Linked DNA regions of Homo sapiens: region 2 is linked to region 1. Evidence: fine-mapped expression QTL. Tissue or cell type: NK cells. Region 1 holds a variant in brackets; the other region holds the start of a gene. All regions are shown on one strand. Distances are from middle to middle.

Region 1 (9,648 bases):
AACGTAGTGAGACCCATCTCCAAAAAAAAAAAAAAAAAAAAAGAGGGACCAAGGGCCTTCCAGGGGTGATGGGGGAGTGTTATCTAGAGTCCCTGGGAAAAGAGTTCTAGATAGAAAAAGTGCCTCATCCTTAGACTGAAGGGAGAAGCAAATGAGAAGATTGAGTCATTGTAAGGAATATTGTAATTCATTTCTTTTTTTCTTTATTATTATACTTTAAGTTCTAGGGTACATGTGCACAACGTGCAGGTTTGTTACATATGTATACATGTGCCGTGTTGGTGTGCTGCACCCATTAACTCATCATTTACATTAGATATTTCTCCTAATGCTATCCCTCCCCCCTCCCTCCACCCCAACATTGTAAATCATTTCTATGAATTACCTCTGGCCCAAATTGAAGCCTGATCTAAGTTTGCAGAAACTATTTTCTCCCTTGGACTGGAGACTGCTCATTTGATGGTGTAGGATTTGGAATTAGTGTATAAGCTCATCAAGGGCCAGGTTACTTTTGACCTCCAGAATCCAAGCTCTTTAGTTCTATGCTGTGCTGTTTCCTGAGATTGAAGTATGCACTTAGGGCAACACAATTTAATAACTGATTACAGTTAGTAATCACTGAGGGAATTCAAAAATTTGTCAGCTGGGTGTTGTGGCTCACGCCTGTAATCCCAGCTCTTTGGGAGGCTGAGGCAGGAGGATTGCTTGAGCCCAGGAGTTCAAGACCAGCCCGGCCAATATGGTGAAACCCCGTCTCTACTAAAAATACAAAAATTAGCCAGGTATGATGGCGGGTGCCTGTAATCCCAGCTTCTTGGGAGGCTGAGGCAGGAGAATCGCTTGAACCTGGGAGGCAGAGGTTCCAGTGAGCCAAGTTCATGCCACTGCATTCCAGCCTGGGTGACAGCAAGAAAAAGATTCTTTTCAGAGTTCCCAAGGTTATTTTGAGAGTTATTGAGTGGGCAAGAGACGTGGTTTTCAGGCAATTTATTCATTCAACCATAGACTGATGTAACAAGGGGATGCTACACTATTGTGTGATTGTCTTCAACAAAGTGAACTGAACTTTTCATTATCATTTATGATACATTGTTTTTGAACAGTTGTAATGAGTGGTTACTATGTAACATTGAATTCTTGACATTAGATTTCATCTGCTCATGATACATTTTTTTTTTTACTTAGCATTTTCTTCTCCTACCTGTTTTTTTTGTTTGTTTTGTTTTGTTTTTTGAGACAGAGTCTCCCTCTGTTGCCCAGGCTAGAGTACAGTGGCATGATCTCAGCTCACTGCAACCTCCCCCTCCGGGATTCAAGCAATTCTCCTGCCTCAGCCTCCCAAGTAGCTGGGACTACAGGCATGTGACACCACACCTGGCAAATTTTTGTATTTTTAGTAGAGACAGGGTTTCACCATGTTGCTCAGGCTGGTCTTAAACTCCTGACTTCAGGTAATCCATTTGCCTTGGCCTCCCAAAGTGCTGAGATTTTAGGTGCGAGCCACGGTGCTCGGCATTTTTTTTTTTTTTTTTTTTTTTTTTGAGGCAAGTTCTCACTCTGTCACCTAGGCTGGAGTGCATTGGTGCAATCATGGCTCACTGCAGCCTCGACTTCATGAGCTCAAGTGATCCCCCCACCTCTGCCTCCAGAGTAGCTGGGACTACAGGTGTGCTCCATGATGCCCAGTTATTTTTTGTATTTTGTGTAGACACAAGATCTCACTCTGTTGCCCAAGATGGTCTCAAACTCCTGGGCTCAAGTGTTCTTCCCACCTTGGCCTCTCAAAGTGTTGGGTTTACAGACATGAGCCACCGTGTATGACCCATCTTTCTAGAGATATATCCACAGGTAAAAAATGTTTTGAAAGCGGAAATAACAAAATGACAACTCACTATAAACATTAGAAGCAATAGTGGAGGCTGGGTGTGATGGCTCACGCCTGTAATCCCAGCACTTTGGGAGGCTGAGGTGGGAGGATCACTTGAGAACCAAGAGTTTAATAAGACCAGCTTGAGCAGCATGGTGAACCCTCATCTCTACTAAAAAAATTAAAAAAATTAGCCAGGTGTGGTGGCATGCAGCTGTAGTCCCAGCTACTTGGGAGGCTGATGTGGGAGGATGGCTTGAGCCCGAGATCGAGGCTTCAGTGAGCAGTGATCATGCCACTGCACTCCAGCCTGGGTGACAAAGCAAGACCCTGTCTGAACAAAACAAAAAAACAGTGGACTTTCACTTAGATGGGTTAGACTGCAGATTATAGTTGCCAGTATAATGGTAACTCTGTACTTTTTTCCCCTCCTTAAGGTGGCATATTGGAATGTGAGTGTAAGTGCTTTTTAGAGAGAACCTTAAATTAACCAGCATGTTTACTTCTGACACTAGACAAGTGGTTAGGACCCACCATTAACATGAAAATTGTCTGGGTGCGGTGGCTCAATCCTGTAATCCCAGCGCTTTGGGAGGCTGAGGCAGGTGGATCACTTGAGGTCAGAAGTTCAAGACAGCCTGGCCAACATGAAATCCCATCTCTACTAAAAATACAAAAATTAGCTGGGTGTAGTGTAATGCCTCCCTGTAATCCCAGCTACTAGGGAGGCTGAGGCAGAAGAATCGCTTGAACCCGGGAGGCAGAGGTTGCAGTGAGCTGAGATTGCTCCATGGCACTCCAGCCTGGGAGACAGAGTGAGACTCCATCTTAAAAACAAAACAAAACAACAACAAAAACCTCTTTTGGGTTCTTTTGTAGGACTCTTGTGGTGGCTTCTGTTTATTATTAAAAATTAAGAGCTAAAATTAAAGGCTTTAGGGAAAGTGAAATAGTAAAATTGACAGCTGTCTAGCATAGAAATTTGCAAAGTATCATAAAAAGCCACATAAGCCCATTTTTAAACGTTTAAAAGAAACAGAAGATTAAAGTAATTGAAACAGTAAGATGGGTAATGACAGTGGATACATTATAAAAGGGAAAATTTTTAGTCATATATTGCTGGACAGTGAGCTTCACTTCACATTAGAAACCAGGGCCTCCAGCCAAGAAATGCAGAGAGTTCACCACTGAGAAGATAATCAGATTATCAAATATTAGCTATTGTTTTGCCCAGTGACAATGATATCAGAATTATTTGTTAATGTTTGGTGCATTCATGTTCAGGCCATCTGTGGCCCTCAATTACAGTGTATTTAAGGCTGTTATTAAAATTTTCAAGTGTACAGAAAGGTAAAATAGTACAAAAAAACTATATCAGCAATTGTCAACATTTTGCCATATTTGCTTTTCTATATAGCCTTCCCACAGGCCTTTTAAAGATATATTACAGATATGACTTCACAAGTTTTTTTGAGCAACACTTAACATTTCTTCCTGTATACCTTGCTATTACATCTATCAAGATGAACAATCCCCTAGATTTCCCTAGTTGTCTCAAAATGTTATGACCGATCTTTTTCTTTTTTTCTTTTGCCACCTTTCTGGCTGGAAATATGGCTGATGTTTTAAAACCAAGATTTGGTATAGAATAACCAATTGAGTTTGGTTATCATGGTTCTTCCTGCCCCCCCCCACCCCCTGCCTGCTTTTCCTGAGTTGTATGTCATGGATCTTAATGTAGAGTCATTTTTCTTATTTTCTGTAATGACCTTGACTTTTGTAAAATAGGCCATTTTAGCACTGTCCCTTAGAACTTTTCTGCCATGATGGCAGTGTTCTATATCTGCATTGTCTCATACAGTAGCTCCTAGCCACATGTGGCTATTAAGCACTTGAAATGTGGCTAAGTTTTTAATTCTATTAAGTTTTGGGTAATTTAAATTGTTATGGTTAACTAGGGGCCATCATACAGCACAGCTCTAAGTCCCTGAATTTTCTGTAAAACAAAAGTTATATCTAAAAGCTTGATTAGGCTGGCATGGTGTCTCACATCTGTAATCCCCAGCGCTTTTGGGAGGCTGAGGTGAGAGGATGACTTGAAGCCAGGAATTTGAGACCAGTCTGGGAAACATAGTGAGACTCTGGCTCCCCCCCTTTCCTGAAAAAATAATTAACCAGGCATGGTGATATGTACCTGTAGTCCTACTCAGGAAACTGAGGGAGGAGGATTGCTTGCGCCCAGGAGTTCAAGATTGCAGTGAGCCATGATTGAGCCACTGCACCCCTGCTTGGGTGACAGAGCAAGACCCTGTCTCCAAAAAATTTTTAAAAATAGAAATAAAATCTTGATTACATTCAATTGTTCACATTTTTGGCAAAAAGGCTTTATAGGTAATTTATAGGTACTATGTACTTAGCCATGTTAAATACTACAGAGAAGTCTAGGAAGGTAACTGAGGAAGGCCAGTGAGGGATATGGAATTATGGAATGTTTTACAGTATTTATGATTTGTGGGACAGCAAAAACTTTTGTGTTAGCGCTGAACATGGAGAGGATTTGTATGTGTGTTTTAATAGATTTTATTTTTGGCCGGGGGCAGTGGCTCATGCCTGTAATCCCAGTACTTTGGGAGGCCGAGGCAGGCGGATCACGAGGTCAGGAGATGGAGACCATCCTGGCTAACACGGTGAAACCCTGTCTCTACTAAAAATACAAAAAACTAGCTGGGTGTGGTGGCGGGCGCCTGTAGTCCCAGCTACTCTGGAGGCTGAGGCAGGAGAATGGCTTGAATCTGGGAGGCGGAGCTTGGACTGAGCCGAGATTGCACCACTGCACTCCAGCCTGGGCGACAGAGCGAGACTCCATCTCAA[A/G]AAAAAAAAAATTTTATGTTTTTGAGGAGTTTAGGTTCACAGCAAAACTGAGCAGTAAATAGTGTTCCCATCTACCCCGTTTCAACACTAGTACAGCACCAGAGTGGTACGTTTGTTACAATCAATGAACCTACATTGACACATCACCCAACATTAATAGTTTCCATAGTTTCTGTTTTGGTGTACATTCCATGAGTTTTGACAAATGGATCTACCGTTATACTATCATACAAGGTAGTCTCACTTCCCTGAATATCCTCTGTGCTCTGCCTATTCCCTCCTCCCCAAACCCCTAGCAACTGCTGATCTTTTTACTATCTCTATAGTTTTGTGTTTTTTTGTTGTTTTTTGTTTTTGTTTTTGTTTTTGAGAGAGTCTTGCTGTGTCACCCAGGCTGGAGTTTAGTAGGGCCATCTTGGCTCACAACCTTCACCTCCCAGATTAAAGCAATTCTTGTGCCTCAGCCTCCAAGCAGCTGGGATTACTGGCAATGTGCCACATTGCCTGGCTAACTTTTGTATTTTTATCAGAGACAGGGAAGTCTCACCATGTTGGCCAGGCTGGTCTCGAGCTCCCGACCTCAAATGATCCACCTGCCTCGGCCTTCCAAAGCGCTGGGATTACAGGCGCGAGCCGCCATGCCTGGCCAAGTTTTGCCTTTTTTTGAGAACGACATTCAGGCTTTCACGATGTCTTTTCATGACTTGATAACTCATGCCCTTTTTTTTTTTTTTTTTTTTAAAAGGAGTCTCACTCTGTCACCTAGGCTGGAGTCCAGTGGTGGGATCTCAGTTCACTGCAACCTTTGTCTCCAGGGTTCAAGCGATTCTCATGCCTCGGCCTCCTGAGTAGCTGGGATTACAAGCGTTCACTGCCATGCCCGGCTAGTTTTCGTGTTTTTAGTAGAGATGGGTTTTCACCATATTGCCCAGGCTGGTCTTGAACTCCTGATCTTGGGTGGTCTACCCACCTTCACCTCCCAAAGTGTTGGGATTACAGGTGTGAGCCACCACGCCCAGCCGATAGCTCATTTCTTTTTAGTGCTGAATAATATTTCATTGCATGAATGTAGTAGAGTGTATTTACCCTTTCACCTACTTAAGGACATCTTAGTTATTTTCAAGTTTTGGCAATTATGAATAAAGCTGCTATAAACATCCTGTGTAAGTTTTTTGTGTGGCAAGGTATTTTTTTTAAAAAATCAAGGCTGGGGGAATGTCTGTAGCCAAAGATACCAGTGGAAAGTAATTCTAGATAAAAAATTAAATGTAGAAAATGAGGCGGGGAACCGTGGGCTTACCTGTAATTCCAGCACTTTGGGAGGCCAAGGAGGGCAGATTGCTTGAGCTCAGTAGTTCGAGACCAGCCTGGGTGACATGGCAAAACCCCATCTATACAAAAAAAATGAGCTGGATATTGTGGTATGTACCTATAGTCCCAGATAATCAGGAGGCTGAGGTGGGAGAGTCGTTTGAGCCCAGGAGTTTGAGGCTGCAGTGAGCCAAGATCATACTGTTGCACTCCAGCCTGGGAGACAGTAAGACCCTGACTCAAAAAAAAGTAGAAAATGAAACCATGAGACTGCAGAAAGTATATTGTGTAATAAATACACATATATATATTTTTGAGCCAAGATCGCGCCACTGCATTCCAGCCTGGGCGATGGAGTGAGATGCCATCTCAAAAAACAAACAAAAACGTAATACATAGTAAATAATACTATATGTAAAGTTCAAAAATGGTCACAGCTTGGTCTGTAGTGATTGGAGTGGTTAACCTTTGTGGATGAGGGAGGTTACAGTGACAGGGGCACCTAAAAAGTAGGTTAGCTTTAAATAATTACAAAGCCAGGATAAGAGCCAGTTTAGTTGTGACATCCTAGAATAGCTCCATCTTTGTTCTTACGATTTTTCTCTTTTTCTTTCTTTTTTTTTTTTTTTTTATTTTACAGGTGAGGTCTCACTGTGTTGCCCAGGCTGGTCTTGAACTCCTGAGCTCTTTTTTGAGACAGGGTCTTGCTGTGTCACCCAGGCTGGAGTGCAGTGGCACAATCTGAGCTCATTGCAGCCTCTACCTCCCGGGTTCAAGTGGTCCTTCCACTTCAGCCTCCCGAGTAGCTGGGACTACAGATGTGCACCACCACGCCTGACTGATTTTTGTATTTTTTGCAGAGATGGGGGGTTTCATCTTGTTGTCCAGTCTGGTATTGAACTCCTGCCCTCAAGCCATCTGCCCTCCTCAGCCTACCAAAGTTCTGGGATTACAGGCATGAGCCACAGCACCCAGCCTATGACTTTTATTAAGTGCTATATTTCCATATATGTGTAACATGAAAATCGTGAAAGTAGAAGATTGATAACCACCTTCAATTCATTTTAATGTAGTAGTACTCAATCTTGGCCGCACATCAGAAGTAACAGGGAACTTTTAAAAAACCAACAAAACTGATTCCCAGGCGCTCTCTCCAGAGATTGGGACCTGAGCATTGGTATTTTTAAAGACCCACAGCTCCTCATACCTATTAGGATGGCTAGTATTAAAACAAAACAAAAAATTACTATTGGCAAGGGTGTGGAGAAATTGAACTCTTGTACGTTGTTAGTGGGAATGTGAAATCATGTATTGACCATGGAAAATGGGATGGGCTTCCTCAAAAAATTAGAAATATAATTGCCATATGATCTAGCAATTCCACTTGTGTATATATATCCAAAAGAATTGAAAGCAGGGTCCTGAGACACTTGTAAACCCATGTTCATAGCAGCAGTATTCACAATATAGTCAAGAAGTGGAAGCAACCCAAGTGGCATCAATGAATGAATGGATAAAGAAAATGATAGACATACGATGGAATATTATTTAGCCTTAAAAGGAAGGGAAATTCTAACACACGCTACAACATGGATGAATCTTGAGGGCTTTGTATTAGGAAAAATAAACCAATCACAAAAAAGATAAATATGATTTGTCACTTTAATGAAGCATTTAGGGTAGTCAAATTCATGGCAACAGAAAGCAGAATGGTGGTTGCCAGGTACAGCAGGGACAGAAGAATGAGGATTTGTTGGTTAATGCACATAGAGTTTCTGTTTTGCAAGATGGAAAAGTTCTAGAGATTGGTTTCACAAAAAACATGAATATACTTAACACTGCTGAACTGTACACTTAAAAAGAGTATGGTAAATTTTGGTATGTTTTACGCCACAGTTCAAAAATATAAGTGATTAATATGCAACAGGAGGTGAGAACTAATACTACTTTAATGCAGACAAAGATAATATTGGCTAAGTGTTAACACTGGTCTCTAAAAATGGGCAACTTATTTCATTTTCATTTTGCTTATGTACTTGAGGTATTATGTGCACGTTGGTAGTACCTTTATTATCCTTAAAGTAATGATGCTGTCTAGGAATATTAAATACCGTCTTTCTGAAACACCTATGAAATTTAAAATATTTTATTCTAGATGTAGCAATATGTGCCACAGAGTAACATTTTAATCTAATAAATTCGGTTTTAAAATAAATCACTTTGGGTCGGGTGCAGTGGCTCACGCCTGTAATCCCAGCACTTTGGGAGGTCGAGGAGGGTGGATCACCTGAGGTCAGGAGTTCCAGACCAGCTTGGCCAATGTAGTGAAACCCTGCCTGTACTAAAAATACAAAAATTAGCTGGGCGTGGTGGCAGGTGCCTGTAATCCCAGCTACTCAGGAAGCTGAGGCAGGAGAATCACTTGAAGCCAGCAGGCGGAAGTTGCAGTGAGTGGAAATTGTGCCACTGCACTCCAGTCTGGGCGGTAGAGTGAGACTCCATCTCAAAAAATAAAAACAGAAAAATAAAATAAAATCACTTTGGCTGGGCATAGTGGCTCAAGGCTGTAATCTCAGCACCTTGGGAGGCTGAGGTGTGTGGATCACCTGAGGTCAGGTTTTTGAGACCAGCCGGGCCAACATGTTGAAACCCTGTCTCTACAAAAAAATACAAAAATTAGCTGCATGGTGTCATGCATCTGTAGTCGCAGCTACTTGGGAGGCTGAGGCTAGAGAATCGCTTGAACCTGGGAGGCAAACATTACAGTGGGCCGAGATCGCGCCATTGCACTCCAGCCTGGGCAACAGAATGAGACTCCATCTCAGAGAGAGAGAGAGACACCATAAATTAATCACTTTTTTCAAATTAGCCAGAACATTTTTTTACTTTGCTTTTCTCTCTTCATTGAATTAACAATTGTAGAATACTTACACACTGATCATATCTTTAACATTCTCTGTTATTTCTTCCGACTAGGAATTTATAGACTTTTCCTGCTAAGACCTCAATTTGTGTTTTTGTGAAAGACAGGAAGACTGAGATGTTGAAATAATTTAAAACAGCCAAGGTTGGCCGGGCGCGGTGGCTCACGCTTGTAATCCCAGCACTTTGGGAGGCCGAGGCGGGCGGATCACGAGGTCAGGAGATCTAGACCACGGTGAAACCCCATCTCTACTAAAAATACAAAAAGTTAGCCGGGCGTAGTGGAGGGCGCCTGTAGTCCCAGCTACTCGGGAGGCGGAGGCAGGAGAATGGCGTGAACCCGGGAGGCGGAGCTTGCAGTGAGCCGAGATGGAGCCACTGCACTCCAGCCTGGGTGACAGAGCAAGACTCCGTCTCAAAAAAAAAAAAAAAAAAAAAAAAAAAAAAAAAAAAAAAAAAAAAAAATCCAAGGCTAAGGCATATATAGTGAAACTTTTACTATTTGTATATAAAAAATTTGTATTTGTTTAAAAATTGATTCCTTTGCCATTTGGCTTTTTTTTTTTTTCATCCTGTCTTAATCATGATGTGCTTTAAAACACAGTATGTGTTAACTCTTTTTTGAGATGGAGTTTCATTCTTGTTGCCCAGGCTGTAGTGCAATGGCACGATCTTGG
Region 2 (10,309 bases), 72 kb after region 1:
GAGCTACTATGCTTTCTATACAACCTGCAGGACCATGAGCCAATTAAATCTCTTTATAAGTTACACAGTCTCAGGTTTTCTTTATAGCAATGAGCGAATAGACTAATACAAATAGTTCTGTAGTCATAACTGTGCAATTCGCTCAAAGTATATAACCTAGAGAAGCTATTACAAAACAGACTAAGGAGACATGTACAAGAATATACAAAACATATGCAAGGATCATAATAGGGAAAGAGGGAGAAGAGAGGGAGGAGGGAAGGAAAGACAGGACCAACCCAAATGCTTTTAATAGAAGAAGGAATAAACTATCATGATCTTACAGTGGAATATTATCAAAAATTAATTATATGCAATAATATGGGGGAATGATACAATGTTGAGCTCTCCTGCAATCTGGTGAATGCAGTTTCAATTTCTAATTGGTTAATGCTAGGATATGGAAAAACTATTGACTTTGTATACTTACCTTGTATCTAGACACCTTACCAAATTGTATTCTATTAATTTTTTAAGGTTTAAAGAAATATAATCTGCAAACAGCTATATTTTCGCCTCTTTTCCAATTTTTATGTAATTTTTAAAATTTATTTGGTTCTTTTTGGGTTATTTCCTTAGCTTGAATTTCCAAAAATAATGTTAAATAATAGAGCTAATAGCAATCATTCTTTCTCATTCCCAACTCTTAAAATAGAGGATTTCACTATAGTTTACTGTTTTCTGGTTATGGTAATGTTTAAGCAGTGTCTTGCTACCTGGATTAATTTAGCTTTTAAGGAATAGCTGCTGAATTTTGCCACATGCCTTTATTGGCATTTGTTGATATGTGGTTTTTCTTCTACAAATGTCGATATAGTTATGTTTATAGATTTCTTGATGTTGGACCATTCTTTCCTGAAATTAAACCTCCATAGTTGTATTATTCATATTATATACTGGTAGATTCAATTTCTAATATAATTATGGAAACTATTTTCTTTTTTTTTTAAATAGTTGTTGGTTTAATTTAATTAATTTGATATAGCTGACACAAATATCTACAAAACCAAATATAAATATCTGTGCCACCACTAAATACTATAATTGCTATTTTTCAGCAATTTTAGTAGACTGTCCTTGTACTGACACTTCACTTCTCAGTCTAATGGGTTATTTATTTATTTATTTTAGTATTTATTGATCATTCTTGGGTGTTTCTCAGAGAGGGGGATTTGGCAGGGTCATAGGACAATAGTGGAGGGAAGGTCAGCAGATAAACATGTGAACAAGGGTCTCTGGTTTTCCTAGGCAGAGGACCCTGCCGCCTTCCGCTGTGTTTGTGTCCCTGGGTACTTGAGATTAGGGAGTGGTGATAACTCTTAAGGAGCATGCCGCCTTCAAGCATCTGTTTAACAAAGCACATCTTGCACCGCCCTTAATCCATTTAACCCTGAGTGGACACAGCACATGTTTCAGAGAGCACGGGGGTGGGGGTAAGGTTATAGATTAACAGCATCCCAAGGCAGAAGAATTTTTCTTAGTGCAGAACAAAATGGAGTCTCCTATGTCTACTTCTTTCTACACAGACACAGTAACAATCTGATCTCTTTCTTTTCCCCACATTTCCCCCTTTTCTATTCAACAAAACCGCCATCTTCATCATGGCCCGTTCTCAATGAGCTGTTGGGTACACCTCCCAGACGGGGTGGCGGCCGGGCAGAAGGGCTCCTTACTTCCCAGACGGGGCAGCCGGGCAGAGGCGTCCCCCACCTCCCTCCCTGACGGGGCAGCTGGCCCGGCAGGGCCTGCCCCCCACCTCCCTCCCGGACGGGGCGGCTGGCCGGGCGGGGGCTGCCCCCCACCTTCCGGACAGGGCGGCTGCCGGACGGAGACGCTCCTCACTTCCCAGAGGGAGCAGCTGCCGGGCGGAGGGGCTCCTCACTTCCCAGACTGGGCGGCTGCCGGGCGGAGGGGCTCCTCACTTCTCAGACAGGGCGGCCGGGCAGAGATGCTCCTCACCTCCCAGACGGGGTGGCGGCCAGGCAGAGACGCTCCTCAGTTCCCAGACGGGGTCACTGCCGGGCAGAGGCGCTCCTCACATCCCAGACAGGGCGGCGGGGCAGAGGCGCTCCCCACATCCCAGACGATGGGCGGCCGGGCAGAGATGCTCCTCACTTCCTAGATGGGATGGCGGCCGGGAAGAGGCGCTCCTCACTTCCCAGACTGGGCGGCCCAGCAGAGGGGCCCCTCACATCCCAGACGATGGGCGGCCAGGCAGAGACGCTCCTCACTTCCCAGATGGGGTGGGGGCCGGGCAGAGGCTGCAATCTTGGCACTTTGGGAGGCCAAGGCAGGCGGCTGGGAGGTGGAGGTTGTAGTGAGCCGAAATCACGCCACTGCACTCCAGCCTGGGCAACATTGAGCACTGAGTGAGCGAGACTCCGTCTGCAATCCCGGCACTTCAGGAGGCCCAGGCGGGCAGATCACTCGCGGTCATGAGGCGGAGACCAGCCCAGCCAACACGGCGAAACCCTGTCTCCACCAAAAAATACAAAAACCAGTCAGGCGTGGCGGCGCGTGCCTGCAATCCCAGGCACTCGGCAGGCTGAGGCAGAAGAATCAGGCAGGGAGGTTGCCATGAGCCGAGTTGGCGGCAGTACCGTCCAGCCTCCGCTGGGCATCAGAGGGGGGACGGTGGAAAGCGGGAGGGGGAGGGGGAGAGGGAGAGGGCTGAAACTATTTTCATTCAAAAAGTTGTCTATATCGCTTTTTAATCTTCATCAGATTTTGGTATTGTGGTCTGTAAATTGAGGAACTTATTTGATGTGAATGAATTTAACAGGAAGTCTGTCATTTAAAAGTTGATACAAGCTGGGTGTGGTGGAATGCATCTGTAATCCCAGCTACTTGGGAGGCTGAGGAAGGATGGTCATTTAAGCCCAGGAGTCCGAGGCTGCAGTGTGCTTAATGACTGCACCTGTGAATAGCCACTGCACTCCATCCTGGGTAACAGCGAGTCCCTGTCTCTTGAAAAAGAAAAAAAAAAAAAGGTAGGACACAAGCAGCCAACATGATCTAGCGGGCAAATGTAGAACACTCTTATCCACACGTTTTTTTTTTTTAAACAACCATGGAACATTCACCAAGATAGACCATATCCCAGATCATAAAACAAATTTAAAAGAATAGAGGTCATGTGGAGTATGTTCTTGGGCCATAATAGAATCAGATACAAGTCAATAATGGACTGCCAAGCACAGTACCTCATGCTTGTAGTCTCAGCACTTTGGGAGGCTAAAGTGAGAGGATTGCTTGAGGCCAGGAGTTCAAGACCAGCCTGATCAACATAGCAAGATCTCTATCTCTTAAAAATTTAATGTGTTATGAGTTAAGAGTTTGGAGGACTGAAAGTAATAATAGAAAAATTGCTAAACACATTAAAAACACAATGGGGCAAGGAGGAAGACAGGAATCTTTGTTTTTTTTTATTTATTTATTTTTTGAGACGGAGTCTCCCTTTGTCACCCAGGCTGAAGTGCAGTGGTGCAATCTCAGCTCCCTGCAATCTCTGCCTCCCGGGTTCAAGCAATTCTCATGCCTCAGCTTCCCAAGTAGTTTGGACTACAGGCGTGCACTACTATGCCTGGCTAATTTTTTTGTATTTTTAGTAGAGATGGGGTTTCAACATGTTGGCCAGGCTGGTCCAAAACTCCTGACCTCAGGTGATCTGACCAGCTCAGCCTCCCAAAGTGCTGGGATTACAGATGTGAGCCACCACCCCCGGCCCTGTTTTTTGTTTTGTTTTGTTTTGTTTTTCATTTTTTGAAACATAATCTCACTCTTTAACCCAGGCTAGAGTGCAGTGGCATGATTTTGGCTCACTGCAGCCTCAACCTTCCAGGGCTAAGGCGATCCTGCCACTTCAGCCTCCCAAGTAGCTGGGACTACAGGCGTGCACCACCACACCTGGCTAATTTCTCTATTTTTTGTAGAGACAGGGTTTTGCCATGTTGCCCACGCTGGTCTTGAATTGCTGAGCTCAAGCGATCCTCCTGCCTCAGCCTCCCAAAGTGCTGGGATTATAGGCGTAAGCCACAGCACCCAACCTAAAACAGGACATTTTAAAAAATACATAACAAATGGCAAAATACAACATATCAACACATATGTAATACGATTAAAGAGTACTGAGAGATGCCAGGCGCGGTGGCTCACACTTGTAATCCCAGCACTTAGGGAGGCTGAGGCGGGCGGTTCACGAGCTAACCTGGCTAACACGGTGAAACCCCGTCTCTACCAAAAATACAAAAAACTTAGCCGGGCATGGTGGCGGGCGCCTGTAGTCCCAGCTACTCAGGAGGCTGAGGCAGGAAAATGGCGTGAACCCGGGAGGCGGAGCTTGCAGTGAGCTGAGATGGAGATCGCGCCATTGCACTCCAGTCTAGGCGACAGAGTGAGACTCCGTCTCAAAAAATAAAATAAAAAGAGTACTGAGAGAAATGTATAGGTGCTAAATGATTGCATTAGAAATTGCAAAGGTCTCAATAAGTTCCTAACTCAAGACCCTAGAAAAAAAGAGCAAAATACAGTTAACCCTCAAACAACATGTGTTTGAACTGTGTAGGTCCACTTACACATGGATTTTCTTCCACCTCTTCCCTCCCCCTCACCCCAAGACAGGAAGATCAACCTCCCTTCTTCTTTCTCCTCCTCAGCTTACCTAACCTGATGATGACAAGGATGAACACTCTTAAGATAATCCACTTCCACTTAATGAATAGTAAATGTATTTTCTCTTCCTTATGATTTTAACATTTTTCTTAATTATAAAGATACAGTATGTAATACATAAACATATGTTAATTGTTTTGGTCAGTAGTAGGCTATTAGTACTTAAGTTTGGGGGAACTCAAAAGTTATACATGGATTTTCAGATGTGAAAGGGTTCAGCAACCCTAACCCCCCGCATTGTTCAAAGGTCAATTGTATAACTCACACATGCTGAAGTAAATTCAAAATTGTACAGCCACTTTGGAAACCAGTTTGACAGTTTCTCATAAAAAATGAACACTTAATACCTGACCCGGTGATTGGGAAAAGGCTTAATGAAATTCTAACAGTGAACTGGACGATAGAAGAGGTCAGGACAAGAGTGGCCATGTCGGTGCTGAGGCTGAGATACCTACCGAGGACTGTCACTCTCACGGCTTCCAGCCCTTCGACGAACTCTCAGGTGTGTGGCCTTCTGGCCAGGCTTCTGCCGCGTCACGTTGTTGAAGCATTCGTTGTATCCCTGGGGTTGCAGCTCTCTGTAAGTTTGCTGTGGCTGAACCAGGCAAGGCATAGGCGGATTTCTACAGAAATTATGATTCCACGAAAGATTTTGAGAAGAGGAAGGCTGGTATCTTTCAGAGTGCAGAGTGATTTTGCACTCTAAAGAATCTCTTTGGGTGTAATAGCATGGAAGTTTGTCGCTGACCTGTGTCCCTGAACTATGACACACGAATATGTGGGCTTAGAAATAGTTTTGCTTGATACATTGAGAACAACAAAGAAGACTGAGTGGCGCTACCTTCTTTGGTGCCCAGGATGGTTTGGGAAAGTCTCGCCTTCATCCTCCCCCACAGTTTTGCGATTTTGAAACGGGATCTCGCTCTCCGCGGAAGACAGCCAAGCTCTGCACCCCGGCCTGGCCCGCCGCACCCCGCAGGCCCGGCTCTCCCCTGCGCGCTCCGGGCTGGGCGCGGCGCGTGTGCGGAGCCGCCGCGGTGACACGGAACGCCGGCCGCCCCGGGCCGGGGGAGGCGCGCGTCGAGAGGCGACGGCGGGCTGGCCTGGCGCGCTGCGGCGCTCGCTCACCCGCTCCCGAGGAAGGGCAGTGGGCCCCGCCGCCGCCTCCCAATGGCGAGGCTGCGGGATTGCCTGCCCCGCCTGATGCTCACGCTCCGGTCCCTGCTCTTCTGGTCCCTGGTCTACTGCTACTGCGGGCTCTGCGCCTCCATCCACCTGCTCAAACTTTTGTGGAGCCTCGGCAAGGGGCCGGCGCAGACCTTCCGGCGGCCCGCCCGGGAGCACCCTCCCGCGTGCCTGAGCGACCCCTCCTTGGGCACCCACTGCTACGTGCGGATCAAGGTGAAGGGCCGCGCGGGCCTGGCGGGAGCGGGAGGGAGCGTGACCGCCGCGAGGGTGGGGGGCTCCGGGCTTCTCCTTCCGAGACGCTGGCTCAGCGTCCCCTAGTGTCCTGGCAGGAGGGGAGGAGGGGTTGGGTCCCTGTGTGTCGTGTGTGTGTGTGTGTGTGTGTGTGTGTGAGAGAGAGAGAGAGAGAGAGAGATACAGATAAACAGCACTCGGTCTTTGCAGGCACCTTGATTGGTTTCTGAATGTGGAACTTCTCTAATCAGGGGCCTCTTATATTACTGCCCCCCGGCGCCACAACAACCCAGAATAAACCTGCTCTTTTTCCTACTGCAAGGGGAAGCTGTCTCCTGTCACCCTTTTGCCCTTTAGAGCTCAGATCAGCTGTAGAGAATTGTTCCTCGTGGCATCCTAATGTCTCAGGAGGCTGTTCTTGCCCAATTTTAGAGATAATAAGAGTAAACAGTCAGTCTTTGGGAGTCATGAGTTTATTATGATCACAGACGACTTAGGTTGCATGAAACAATAAGTAAATTGTGTGTGTTGTGGGGAGGAATGCATACTTATGAAGTCAGGGACCAAAGAAAGGAATGGAATAAAAGGTAAATCCAGCCATGCCTGCAGACGCTAATTGTTCAAGCTTCCTCACAGCCCACAAATATTCTGTTTCCTGAGGCTCCAGGTGGTGAAGGGAAATAGTTCCCGTGATACACCCTGCAGTCTGACTCACAGGCCTTTCAAACCCAGCCTCATAAGAGGGGATGTTTATGTCACCAAGTCCTTATTTCCTGTTAGGAGCTAAATTGCCCCGCAGCTGAAGTTCAGAAGGGCAAGAGAACTTCTTTCTTGCCTGGGGTCGACATGAGAATTAAATAGGTTAATATTTATAAAAACAAACACGAAAAACTTAGAACAATGCCTGATGCATAGTCAGTGCAATAAAGTATCTGTTAATTAAATCCATTGCAGTGCCCATAACATTTAATCCTCCAAGACTCACCACCAATAAAAAAAGTTATTGAACCTCTAGGAAGCCATCGTGCAGCTGAGGGTAAAGTCAGATTTGTTATCTCTGTTCAACCTGAGGGGTAAAAGTAGTATAAGAACCATCTGGAATTCCATAAAACACTTTTCCCCTCGCTCTGGCCGCCTAAAGAGCTTCCCCAGAGACAGAGAACCGAGTGGAAAGAGCATTGTCCTGGGAGTTAGGACAAGATGGAGATTCTGGTCACAGCCCTGCTCTCAACCATTTTATGACTCATGTTACCATCTTTGGGCCTCATCTTCTGAATCTGCAAAATGATTCTTTCACATCTGAAAACTCAGTTGCTTGAGTTGCCTGCTATAAAAACCCAATGTCTGTGTTTAGCTTTTGGTTCTTTTTGTTTCCTAGCTTGCTTGCTTTCAGAGATTTTTATTCCTGCTGTTCCCTCTACTTTCCTCAATTCAGCCTGCTTAGTATTTGCTTGAATTCCTGACTCATTCCCATGTTTTTTTAATTTTCCTTGGGTTTTCTTGTCTCCTACATGCAGAGTGAAGTCTTGAGCACTCAGGGCATTCTCTTATTAGAAACGCACACTGACATGACATGAGCAGGCAGCAAGGGGAACAGAACATGCAACACTCAAAATAATAATGTGGGAAGGAGAGACCTAAAAATAAGAGAAGGAGGTGTGAATTATATAACTGATGGCACAGCTCTTGACGGGCAAGCTGAGAAAAGTAGATGACTAGGATGTAAACATGGCAGAAATATAAATTCAGATTAGAATTATTTACATGTCCTGCAGCATTTGAGGGAGATGAAATGTGACACATCAGTAAGATGAAAGTTACAAATGGTAAGATGAAAGTTACAAATTGTGACATTGCTTCAGAAGCTCATAATATATAAATTGACTGTACTAGAACAAGAAGAGAAGGTACTGTCAAGGGAGTGTTGACAAAGTGAATCTGTCAATTTACCCTATTAATAGGTCATGGGGTTTGCTTTTCTTTTTGAAAATTAATAAAAGTAAATATATTTCTTGATGTTAAAAATAAGGCAACTGAGTGTCATGAAGATATTGTAAATACACAAATGTTTTAAAATAAGGCAAGTTACTATTTTTTTAATGAAATGGAAATGCTAAATATATTGCTTTGTCAATCAACACAAACATCACTAAAATTCCATGCCCTCTACTTTCAGGATTCAGGGTTAAGATTTCACTATGTTGCTGCTGGAGAAAGAGGCAAACCACTTATGCTGCTGCTTCATGGATTTCCAGAATTCTGGTAAGCTTACCAACTAACATTTATTGTTACATTAAAACTTGGCTTATTTTCTCAGTTCATTTTGTGCTGCTGTAACAGAATATCACAGTCTGGGTAACTTAAAATGAACATAAATGATTTTCTCAGAGTTCTGGAGGCTGGGAAGTTCAGGATCAAGGTGCCAACATCTGACAAGGGCCTCCTTGCTGCAACATCACATGGCAGAGGAGGAAGGGCAAAGAAGCAAAAGGGGGCCGAAATTGCCCTTTCATAGTGGCATTATTTCCATCCATGAGGGCAGAGCCTGCATGACCTAACCACCTCTTAAAGGTCCCACCTCTTAATACTGTTACAATGGCAATTTTTGAGACAAGGTCTTACTCTGTCACCCAGGCTGGGGCACAGTGGCATGATCACAGCTCACTGCAGCTTTGAACTTCTGGGTTTAAGCAGTCTTCCCACCTCAGCCTACCAAGTAGCTGGGACTACAGGCATCTACCACCACACCTAGCTTTTTTTTTTTTTTTTGGAGGTGGGATCTTGCTATATTGCCTAGGCTGGTCTTGAAAGCCTGAGATCAAGCAATCCTCCCACCTTGGCCTCCTAAAGTGCTGGGATTACAGATGTAAGCCACCACGCCAAGCCTCTTGTAATGACTTTTAACAGACCCTACTTTTTGATCATGTGCCCAGAGTTAATATTCCTAAATGTTCCTGAATCACAGGTCTTTTTCCTCCTAAAAAGACCTACCTGCTACCAATTTAAATTTATATATTTTTTTGAGGATTAAAAGAAGTATCTTTTAATGTTTCAAATTTCTGAAATAGTAACAAAACAGTTTGTATAGAGTATCTACTATAGACAAAATACAACACTGGGTAGGGAAAGGAGATTTTAAACAAACCAAAGACGTGGAGTGATTGTTATTAGGAAGATTTTGGTGAGGCTGGGGTGAGGAGAAGGCAGAGTAGAGCACTTATGGAAACTGAAAATGAACTATTTCCTATGCACAGAGCAATAGGCTTATATGAATGCAGGATAATTTAAGTACCTAAATATTTCTCATTAGGAAGAAAATCTGGAGCCCCAAATATGTAATTATTAGTTACTATCTTCGTTCATTTTTGTTGCTAACAAAATACCTGAGACTGGGTAATTTATAAAGAATAGAAATTTATTTCTCACCGTTCTGGAGACTGGGAAATCCAAGATCAAGGCACCAGTAGGTTCAGAGTCTGGTGACATCCATGTCTGTGTGTGTCCAACATGGTGCCTTGTTGATGTGTCTTCTGGAGGCAAATAAACTTCATCATATGAATTTTGGGAGAACATATTCAGACCATAGCAGTTACCTAAGGGGAAGTGTTCTGTTCTCTATTGACCCCACTGGGCCAAATAAGTACAGATGAAAGCAACACATGTTTAAACTTTTTTTTTTTTTTTTTTTTTAATGAACATCTTTAAAAGAGGTGGTACATATCAGGAGGCCGAGGCGGGTGGATCACGAGGTCGGGAGATTGAAACCATCCTGGCTAACACGGTGAAACCCTGTCTCTACTAAAAATACAAAAAAAAAAAAAATTAGCTGTGCTTGGTGGCAGGCGCCTGTACTCCCAGCTACTCGGGAGGCTGAGGCAGGAGAATGGTGTGAACCCAGGAGGCGGAGCTTGCAGTGAGCCGAGCTCGTGCCACTGCACTCCAGCCTGGGCAACAGAGCGAGATTCCGTCTCAAAAAAAAAAAAAAAAAAAAAGGGTGGTACATATCATGGCAGTAAAAGAAAACCAGTTTTTATAGCACAGGGCTATAAGAAATAGTTCATAAACTAAATAGGTCAAGAAATTGATGTTTTTAAAAGCCCAGTTCCCTTAGTTGACTCAAAGGTGGAATATCTGGTATATTTTGAAAGGTCTAGGACAATATCCTGTCCCCAAATTCTCC

Which allele goes with the higher level. Alleles are on the strand shown, and positions count from the first base shown. SD is a standard deviation of normalised expression in the study named.
For the expression in NK cells of the gene that starts at base 5,786 in region 2, allele A in region 1 goes with a lower level than allele G (large effect, 1.5 SD a copy in Gilchrist 2021).

The links. PIP is the estimated chance that this variant, and not a neighbour inherited with it, causes the effect.
Region 2: EPHX4 starts here. The variant in region 1 is fine-mapped to the expression of EPHX4 in NK cells (Gilchrist 2021, PIP 0.94).

The regions. Positions count from the first base shown.
Region 1 is chr1:91,952,757-91,962,404 of GRCh38, forward strand. All of the region lies in intron 1 of BRDT (bromodomain testis associated), which reads left to right. Among named protein-coding and RNA genes, the nearest start is that of BRDT, 8.2 kb to the left of the region's middle. The variant A/G (reference allele first, on the strand shown) is at 4,739.
Region 2 is chr1:92,024,200-92,034,508 of GRCh38, forward strand. It overlaps EPHX4 (epoxide hydrolase 4), which reads left to right and starts at 5,786. Exons shown (of 7, transcript NM_173567.5): 1 at 5,786-6,111; 2 at 8,306-8,391. The coding sequence starts at 5,881. LOC124904218 (a long non-coding RNA gene) reads right to left here and starts at 6,188. Exons shown (of 2, transcript XR_007066222.1): 1 at 5,166-6,188; 2 at 1-3,005. RefSeq lists an enhancer at 5,485-5,986.